2 linked regions of the Homo sapiens genome follow. The protein of the gene in region 1 purifies or fractionates together with the protein of each later gene. This does not show direct contact. Each region holds a gene or a part of one and is shown on either strand. Other genes may lie near its edges. The genes, in order: METTL26 and LZIC.

Region 1 (4,036 bases):
AGGACGTGCTCAAGGATGACAAGATGGGCCTCAAGTTCTTGGGCACCAAGTACCTGGAGGTGACGCTGAGTGGCATGGACTGGGCCTGCCCCTGCCCCAACATGACGGCGGGCGACGGGCCGCTGGTCATCATGGGTGAGGTGCGCGATGGCGTGGCCGTGCTGGACGCCGGCAGCTACGTCCGCGCCGCCAGCGAGAAGCGCGTCAAGAAGATCTTGGAGCTGCTGGAGAAGCAGGCCTGCGAGCTGCTCAACCGCTTCCAGGACTAGCCCCCGCAGGGGCCTGCGCCACCCCGTCCTGGTGAATAAACGCACTCCCTGTGCCTCAGACCTCCTGGCTTGCTGCTGCTGGTCGGGCGACCCTCATCCTTCCAGGTGCCCCATGCCCAGCCAGTTTCCGCTGGGGCCTTGACACCCACTGGGGCTTGGGCTTTGGTACAAGGTCACCAGGGAGTGCCTGTCCGCCCCTGCATCCCCAACCAGCTCCATCCTGCCTCAGCAGCTGTCTCGGCCCCAATCCCACTGCCCGAGCTCCAGCAGCAAGGATCAGGACGTCCCAAGCCCTTGACCCCACAGGAGACCCCGTCTCCCACCCAACCTCACAAGGTGCTCCTAGGAGGAGGTGGGGCAGACACCAGCAAGCCGGCAGCAGGACATGCTTTATTCTGAGCAGGCTGGGCCCTTCGGCCAGCGGCTGAGAGCACAGACTGGGTGGGGCTGTCGTCCACAAGGTCCGGCCTAGGGAGGCAGGGTTCGTGCCTCACAGAGCCTCCGGCAGGGATGCAGGTGTGCGGGGGTGAAGGAGGGGCTTAGTTTTTCCGGAAGATCAGGCATTTGTTGTTGGCTGGCATGTCCACCTGGAGAAACACTTTGCTGGAGGACGGCCCTCAACCCCTAGAGAGGTTGCCTGGGCCCCCGCTCCCCCACCTACCATCCTCTCCAGGAGCAGGCCACTGGCCTTTCCCAGGTCCTCCAGGAGGGCTGTGTCCCGAAGCCCCCATTCTGGGTTCCTGCAGAGGGTGGGGAGATGGAGTCATGGCCTGGGGGGTGCCACCCAAGCCACCTGCCACCTGAGCCAGACCCCCCGCCTCTAGCTCTGACCTGCATCTGAGCATCAGGTCAAAGTCCACGTTGCTCTGGGGGGAGATCTTCCCATTGATGGCATAGGGCTGTGGGCATGGGGACACAGCCCACTGGACCAAGGTCGGGGTATTTCCCAGAGAGCCTGGGACAGACTTGCAGGCTGGGGTTTGGAGAATGAAAGGGCACCCCCTCCCTGTCCCCAAGAGGGAGTCAGCCAAGGCCAGCCTGGTGGGCAAGGGGGTAGGGAGGCTGGCAGATGACCCAGGGAGGGGTACAGACTGGAAGTGGAGGGGAGGCCGTGCTGGTGGCTGGGCGGGGGGCAGGGAGCCCAGGAGGGAGGACTCTCAGCAGGGCAGGAGACAGCAGCTAGGACTGGGAGCGGGAGGCCCGCCGTGGACAGGCCCACTCACCCCGTAGGTGATGAGCAGGGCCCTGGGTTTGAGCAGGTGTCCTGCTGCTCTGAAGAGCCCCTGGTGAGTAGGAACAGGACGGCAGTGAGGTGCTGCCCCCAACAGAAGCCAGGCCCTGAGGCTGGAGACCCTCACCCCGACTGTGATGGGGGAGGCTGGAGACCCTCACCCCGACTGTGATGGGGGAGGCTGGAGACCCTCACCCCGACTGTGATGGGGGAGGCTGGAGACCCTCACCCCGACTGTGATGGGGGCAAATCTGGCATCCCAGCTGCCCCCATGCAGGGTGAGTGGTGCCACGGCAGACACCCATGCTGGGCTCCCCACAGACCTCCGTGCAGCGCAGGGGGCTGACATGGGCCATGTTGATGCAGAGCAACAGGTCCAGCGACTGTGGCAGGATCCCGCCCCAGTGCTCCCAGCCCCACGTCACGTCCAGGTGTAGCGGGGCCTTCACGTTGGTCAGGCCCTGGGCTTGCGTGGTGGCCGCGATGCTGCAGGAGGCGAACGCTTGGGTGGGGGCCGAGTCCTGTGCACCCGCCTTTCCGACGCCCCCACAGAATTTCTTAGGGGAGGCTGGGGGGCACGTTGAGGAGCGGAGACCAAAGCGGCTGGGAAGGGGGACCCCGAGGTCCACCCACTTCCGCAGCCGCGGGGGCCGCACAGCTAGGGCCTGCCCCGGGGGCACCCCCAGGCTCCCACCCCGCACCCTCAGAGCCCGAGCCGCATCCTTTTCCTCCGGGGCTGCGGGCCGTGGGCTCTTGAGGCCCCGGACCGCCGCACCGATAGAAGTGGCCGCCCCGGGGGCCGCACCTGTCCAGGCAGCGCTGGTCCACGTCCGACGGCTGCCACTCGGCCAGGGGGAAGGCCCGCGCGAAGTGCGCTGCGTGCTGGCCGGAGCCCGAGGCCACCTCGAGGACGCGGACGCCACGCTGGGCCGGATCCAGGTACTGCCGCAGCACGTGCAAGATGGGATCCTTGTTCCGCTCCGCGGCCGCCGCCACCAGCATCGCGGCAGCAACAACTCCCCGCCGCGGACGCGGCGCGGGTCGCGTCGGGGGCGGTGGCCGGGCTTCCGCGGGGCACGTCGGGAGCTGTAGTCCAGATACCGCGGGGCACGTCGGAAGCTGATAAACTACAACTCCCAGGAGCACGCGCGCCTCCTGTTAAAGGACCAGCAGTCGCCAGAGGCACGGTGGGGAGCGGCTCAGCGGTGTGTGGCGGTCCCAGGCAGGGGACTGAACGGCGAGCTTGGCTTGCTGGTTTACAGGCGCCTCAGCTCAGGCACCCTGTCGCCCATGGCCGTCCAGGGTTTTCAGGGCACCTGTGTCACTCTCCGAAATTTGTGTCAGCGCTGCGCCAGACTGGGCGCCTTCCCTTGGTTTCGGGTTTTCTCTACTTTTAAATTTCTGGCGTTAGCGAGAGTTCGATGTTCAAATGGGAAAAAAAACTAAGTGCGCCGCCCGGGAATCGAACCCGGGTCGCAAGAATGGGAATCTTGCATGATACCACTACACCAGCGGCGCTGTCTAAGACAGTTGCTGCCCGCGGAGACAAGAGACTGTGACGCGGGAAGTCCTCCGGGCGTGCGCCGCCGCTGGCGCCGGGCTCAGCGCAAGGGAGCTGGCGACTGCATAGGAGGACCCAGCTGGCGGGACCGCGAGGGTAAGAGTCTCGCGGTGCCCCCCAGTGCCGGAGGGGAAGGAGCGGGCGTGAAGGACGCGAGCTGGAGGACAGTCTCGATTCGGGCCTGAGCCGTGGAAGCCGTTGGCCTTCGTGAGCCGATGGGGGCGAGGCCCTGTCGGGGCGGGGCTGGGGAGAGGGCGGGGCTGGGCTGGGGCCCCCTGTTGGTCCGAGTTTAGGGCGGGGTTGCCGGAGGGGCGGGGCCATATCGGGGCGGGTCCGAGAGGGGAGGCGGGGCTGGGGGGCGGGACATGAGTGTGGACTGGCGGGTTGGGGCGGGGCCAGAGCGGGGTTGCGGCAGGGGCGGCAGGGGCGGCAGGGGCGGCAGGGGCGGCAGAGGGCGGGGCGGGCGGTCCCAGCCTGCAGAACTGGGCGGTCTGCGGGAGGGGCACGAATAATGCCCCAGGGTTTCTCTGTGACACTGGGGTAACAGCACCAGCTCAGGGCCCACGGATAGCGTGAGGGGTCGGTCGGTGACCCCCGAAATCAAGTCACAGGCCGCGATTTATGTGCGCCCGAGGGTTGGGGTCCCAGCCTCAGAGCCGGGCTCTTCTCCAGAAAGTGCCAAGCGCCTGGCTCTGCATTCAGGACTGGCTTAGCGCCTTTGCTGAGCCGTTTTTCACCAATGGGAACCCCATATCGCTCTGGCTAGGGCAAGGACGTTGGAAGGGGTAAACCAGGGAGGGCCAGTCACGTGGCTCAGGGTAGGAGAGTGGCTTACAGGCTGCCAGTCTGGGACTGGGAACGCGGGCCATGGGGGGCTCAGGGAGTCAGGGGTCAGGGACAACCCTGCCAGGAGATGTTGGTGTCCGCCGTGGTGGTGACTGGCCAGACCCTGCAGCAGGCTCTGCGGCCCAAGCC
Region 2 (3,808 bases), on another chromosome or scaffold:
AGCCAGGCATGGTGGCAGGCGCCTGTAGTCCCAGCTACTCAGGAGGCTGAGGCCGGAGAATGGTGTGAACCCGGGAGGTGGAGCTTGCAGTGAGCCGAGATAGCGCCACTGCACTCCAGCCTGGGTGACAGAGCAAGACTCCACCACAAAAAAAAAAAAAAAAAAAAAAAAAAAAAATATATATATATATATATACACATACATATAGCTTTTCAGACGTACTTCTTAAAAAAAAATCCTCTAGCTGATTAATATTATAAAGAACTACAGATATAATCCAAGGCAAATATGATAGAAATGTTAAATGCAGTTCTAGTAAATCATCTAGTAAAATATCACCTCTTCCACCAGAAACACTAATAGCATGTACCACACATTGGGAATATTCAAAGTACTTTTACACATATTACTTCATTTAATCCTCATAAGAACCATAAGAGGTAAGGACTATCTTTGTCATGTTTTTACAGACAGAGAAACCTAGGCACAAAGGGGATGAATAAAATAAGTTGTCCAGGCCAGGTACAGTGGCTCATGCCTGTAATCCCACCACTTTGGAAGGCTGAGGTGGGTGGATTGCTTGAGCTCAGGAGTTCAAGACTATCCTGGCCAACATGGTGAAACCCTGTCTCTATGAAAAATACAAAAATTAGTGGGGTGTGGTGGTGTTGTGCCTGTGGGCCCAGATACTTGAGGGGCTGAGATGGGAGACGCTTGAGCCCAGGAGACAGAGGCTACAGTGAGCCGAGATTGCATTACTACACTGAGCCTGGGTGACAAAGTAAGACCCTGCCTCAAAAACAACAACAACAACAAAAAAACAAAAAACAAACAAAAGGCTAGGCGCAGTGGCTCCCATCTATAATCCCAACACTTTGGGAGGCTGAGGCGGGCAGATCACTTGAGGTTAGGAGTTCAAGACCAGCCTTGACAACATGGTAAACCCCATTTCTACTAAAAATACAAAAATTAGCCAGGCGTGGTGGCATGTGCCTGCTGTAGTCCCAGCTACTCAGGAGGCTGAGGCAAGAGAATCACTTGAACCCAGAGGCAGAGGTTGTACTGAACCGAGATTGCGCCACTGCCCTCCAGCCTGGGCAACAGAACAAGACCCCATCTCAAAAAAAAAAAAAAACATAAAAAACTTGTCACATACCTCAGTAGTGAAGCAGGAATTCAAATCCAGCCAGTCTGACCAAAGTCCATGCTCTGAATCACTATGCTACTGAATTGCCCATACTTACAAATAATTTGGTAACTCTTAATTACATCCAAGCCTATAAACAGACTTCTGGAAGTATCAGGTTTACAAAGATACTTGAAATTCTTAGATGAGATAGGCTACACATGCATACAAGCAATGCTGCTAATTAATTCTCAATGTGATTTTAAGTTAGAGCTCCAGAAGTAAATGGTAAAACATTAAAGGTGGAGTCCAGGTAGAAGTGGTCAGTGGCAATTTAAACTGCCGTATATTGTTTAAAGCTCTACATTCATTATCAACTATAATTGCTCAAAGTACTAATTTTGTCAGAAAATTGTTAGTTGTGGCTCTAAAATCACCTGGCAAATTTTTAAGCCATAGGATATCATAATGAATTGGCCTAGGAAATGAAAAACACACAGCAACCAAATCAATTTAAAGAAATTTTACCTCTGCTAACCTTGTCCGAAGCTGACCTGGTTGTTTCTTTGCAAACAATCTGATGACCTCTGGGGTTTTAAAGGCCTGGCTGATAGCTGCCTGAATAGCCTAGAAACACAAGAAGGCAAAAACTAACCAAAATAGTCCAACAAATCAGATATTGCAATAACTGATTGACGGATCCTTAATTTTTATCAAGGTTTACTGGTTCCTGTCATGGAAGCAATTACACAACTAAATGAAGATCTGGAAGGATATGTTGTGTATGCATAAACAGACACTCATCTAGAAGTTACACCTTGGGAGGCCAAGGCAGGAGGATTGCTTGAGCCCATGAGTTTGAGACCAGCCTTGGAAATGTAGCAAGACCCCATCTCTAAAAAAAAAAAACTAAAGGCCAGGCACAGTGGCTCACGCTTGTAATCCCAGCACTTTGGGAGGCCGAGGCAGACAGATACCTGAGGTTGGGAGTTCAAGACCAGCCTGACCAACATGGAGAAACCCCGTCTCTACTAAAAATACAAAATTAGCTGGGTATGGTGGCACATGCCTGTAATCCCAGCTCCTCAGGAGGCTGAGTAAGGAGAATCGCTTGAACCTGGGAGGCGGAGGTTGCAGTGAGCCAAGACTGCCCCACTGCACTCCAGCCTGGGCGACAGAGTAAGAATGCATCTCAAACAAAAACAAGAACAAACAAAAAAACAAAGTCTGTCCTCTGTCGCCTATATGTTATACTTACCAGCTGCATTCCACTTAGTTCATCTACCAAAGTCATATTTCCAGACATAATTTTCTTTAGTGAATCATTAAATTCACTTAGTTGCTCCAGAGTTTCCTTTTTGGTTTCTTCATATTCATCTGTATCAAGTTCCTCTCTGAAATAGGTGAACATCATGATATGGAAAAATGAAGAGTTCCAAGTGAAAAATGCAATCTTAATACTTGTACATTAGAGAAAGACTGAAGGGAAATATCAAAATGCTGATGGTGAATGTGTTCACATAGTAGTAGTGAGGGCATTTTCCTGCAATATAGTTACTTTGGTAAACATTTTTCTTTTACCAAAATGAGGATACTTAAGAAACCACATAATAAAGCAGGGTGCCGTAGCTCACACCTGTAATCCCAGCACTTTGGAAGGCTGAGATGGGCAGATCACCTGAGGTCAGGAGTTCGAGGCCAGCCTAGCCAACATGGTAAAACCCCGTCTCTACTAAAAATACAAAATTAGCCGGGCATGGTGGTGCATGCCTGTAATCCCAGCTACTCGGGAGGCTGAGGCAGGAGAATCGCTTGAACTTGGGAAGCAGAAGTTGCAGTGGGCTGAGATCTCGCCACTGCACTCCAGCCTGGGCAATACAGCAAGACTCTGTCTCAAAAAAAAAAAAAAAAGCTGCAATGAACTGTTGTGGTCCTTTGTGCAGGTAAGGCTGAAACTACATGCCAGAAGTTCAAGTAGTACCTTCTTAGCCTGACAGCAGGTAGGACTGATTTAAATACTAAAGACAAAGTAGGTGTTATTTCTACTTCAAGGAAGGTAAGTATTTTGCTCAAGTTCACATGCACTTAGTAGTTAACTGAATGACTTTCATTTCCCAGCCTTTATGACTCCAAAGCCTGCAATAAGTTTACTTCTCTAATAGACAAAGCACTGCAAAGAACACTACAGGGGAATGCAGAATCATCACACATGGGCCTGCATCCACGGAGCTAGCTGCAGAAAAAACGCCAGTTTCCAGCATAACAACATACAATTAAACTCTTACCTGCATTCCTCCAGATCTTGTAATTGTTGCATGAGTCTATCCAACTGTTCTTCTAAATTCTGCTTTAATTTGCTTGTCTCTGTCTTTCCTCTGGAAGCCATTTTAATCTCTATGTGAAACAATAAACCCACATACCATATGAAATTAACATACCAGTGCAATTTTTTTAAGTTTTATTTTTTGTAGAGACAGAGTCTCACTATGTTGCCCAGGCTGGTCTCGGAACATCTGGCCTAAAGTGACCCTCCCATCTTGGACTACCAAAGAGGTGGGATTATAGGCATAAGCCACCACACCCAGTCCCTAGTGCAATTAAAAATATGCAGCTGCGGCCAGGCGCCGGTGGCTCAGGCCTGTAATCCCAGCACTTTGGGAGGCCGAGGCGGGTGGATCACAA

Evidence for each region.
Region 2: the proteins of METTL26 (region 1) and LZIC purify together in Homo sapiens (affinity purification with mass spectrometry; one large-scale study listed by BioGRID and IntAct). This does not show direct contact.

The regions. Positions count from the first base shown.
Region 1 is NC_000016.10:633,789-637,824, forward strand, and holds METTL26 (methyltransferase-like 26), read right to left. Parts: upstream 2,518-4,036; 5' UTR 2,503-2,517; coding exon 2,306-2,502; intron 1,987-2,305; coding exon 1,824-1,986; coding exon of another isoform or gene 1,730-1,823; intron 1,553-1,729; coding exon 1,493-1,552; intron 1,276-1,492; coding exon of another isoform or gene 1,169-1,275; coding exon 1,101-1,168; intron 1,010-1,100; coding exon 931-1,009; intron 857-930; coding exon 809-856; coding exon of another isoform or gene 738-808; 3' UTR 642-737; downstream 1-641. Other genes in the region: WFIKKN1 (WAP, Kazal, immunoglobulin, Kunitz and NTR domain-containing protein 1 precursor), read left to right, coding at 1-269.
Region 2 is NC_000001.11:9,933,108-9,936,915, forward strand, and holds part of LZIC (protein LZIC), read right to left. Parts: intron 3,521-3,808; coding exon of another isoform or gene 3,513-3,520; coding exon 3,412-3,512; intron 2,521-3,411; coding exon 2,385-2,520; intron 1,754-2,384; coding exon 1,655-1,753; intron 1-1,654.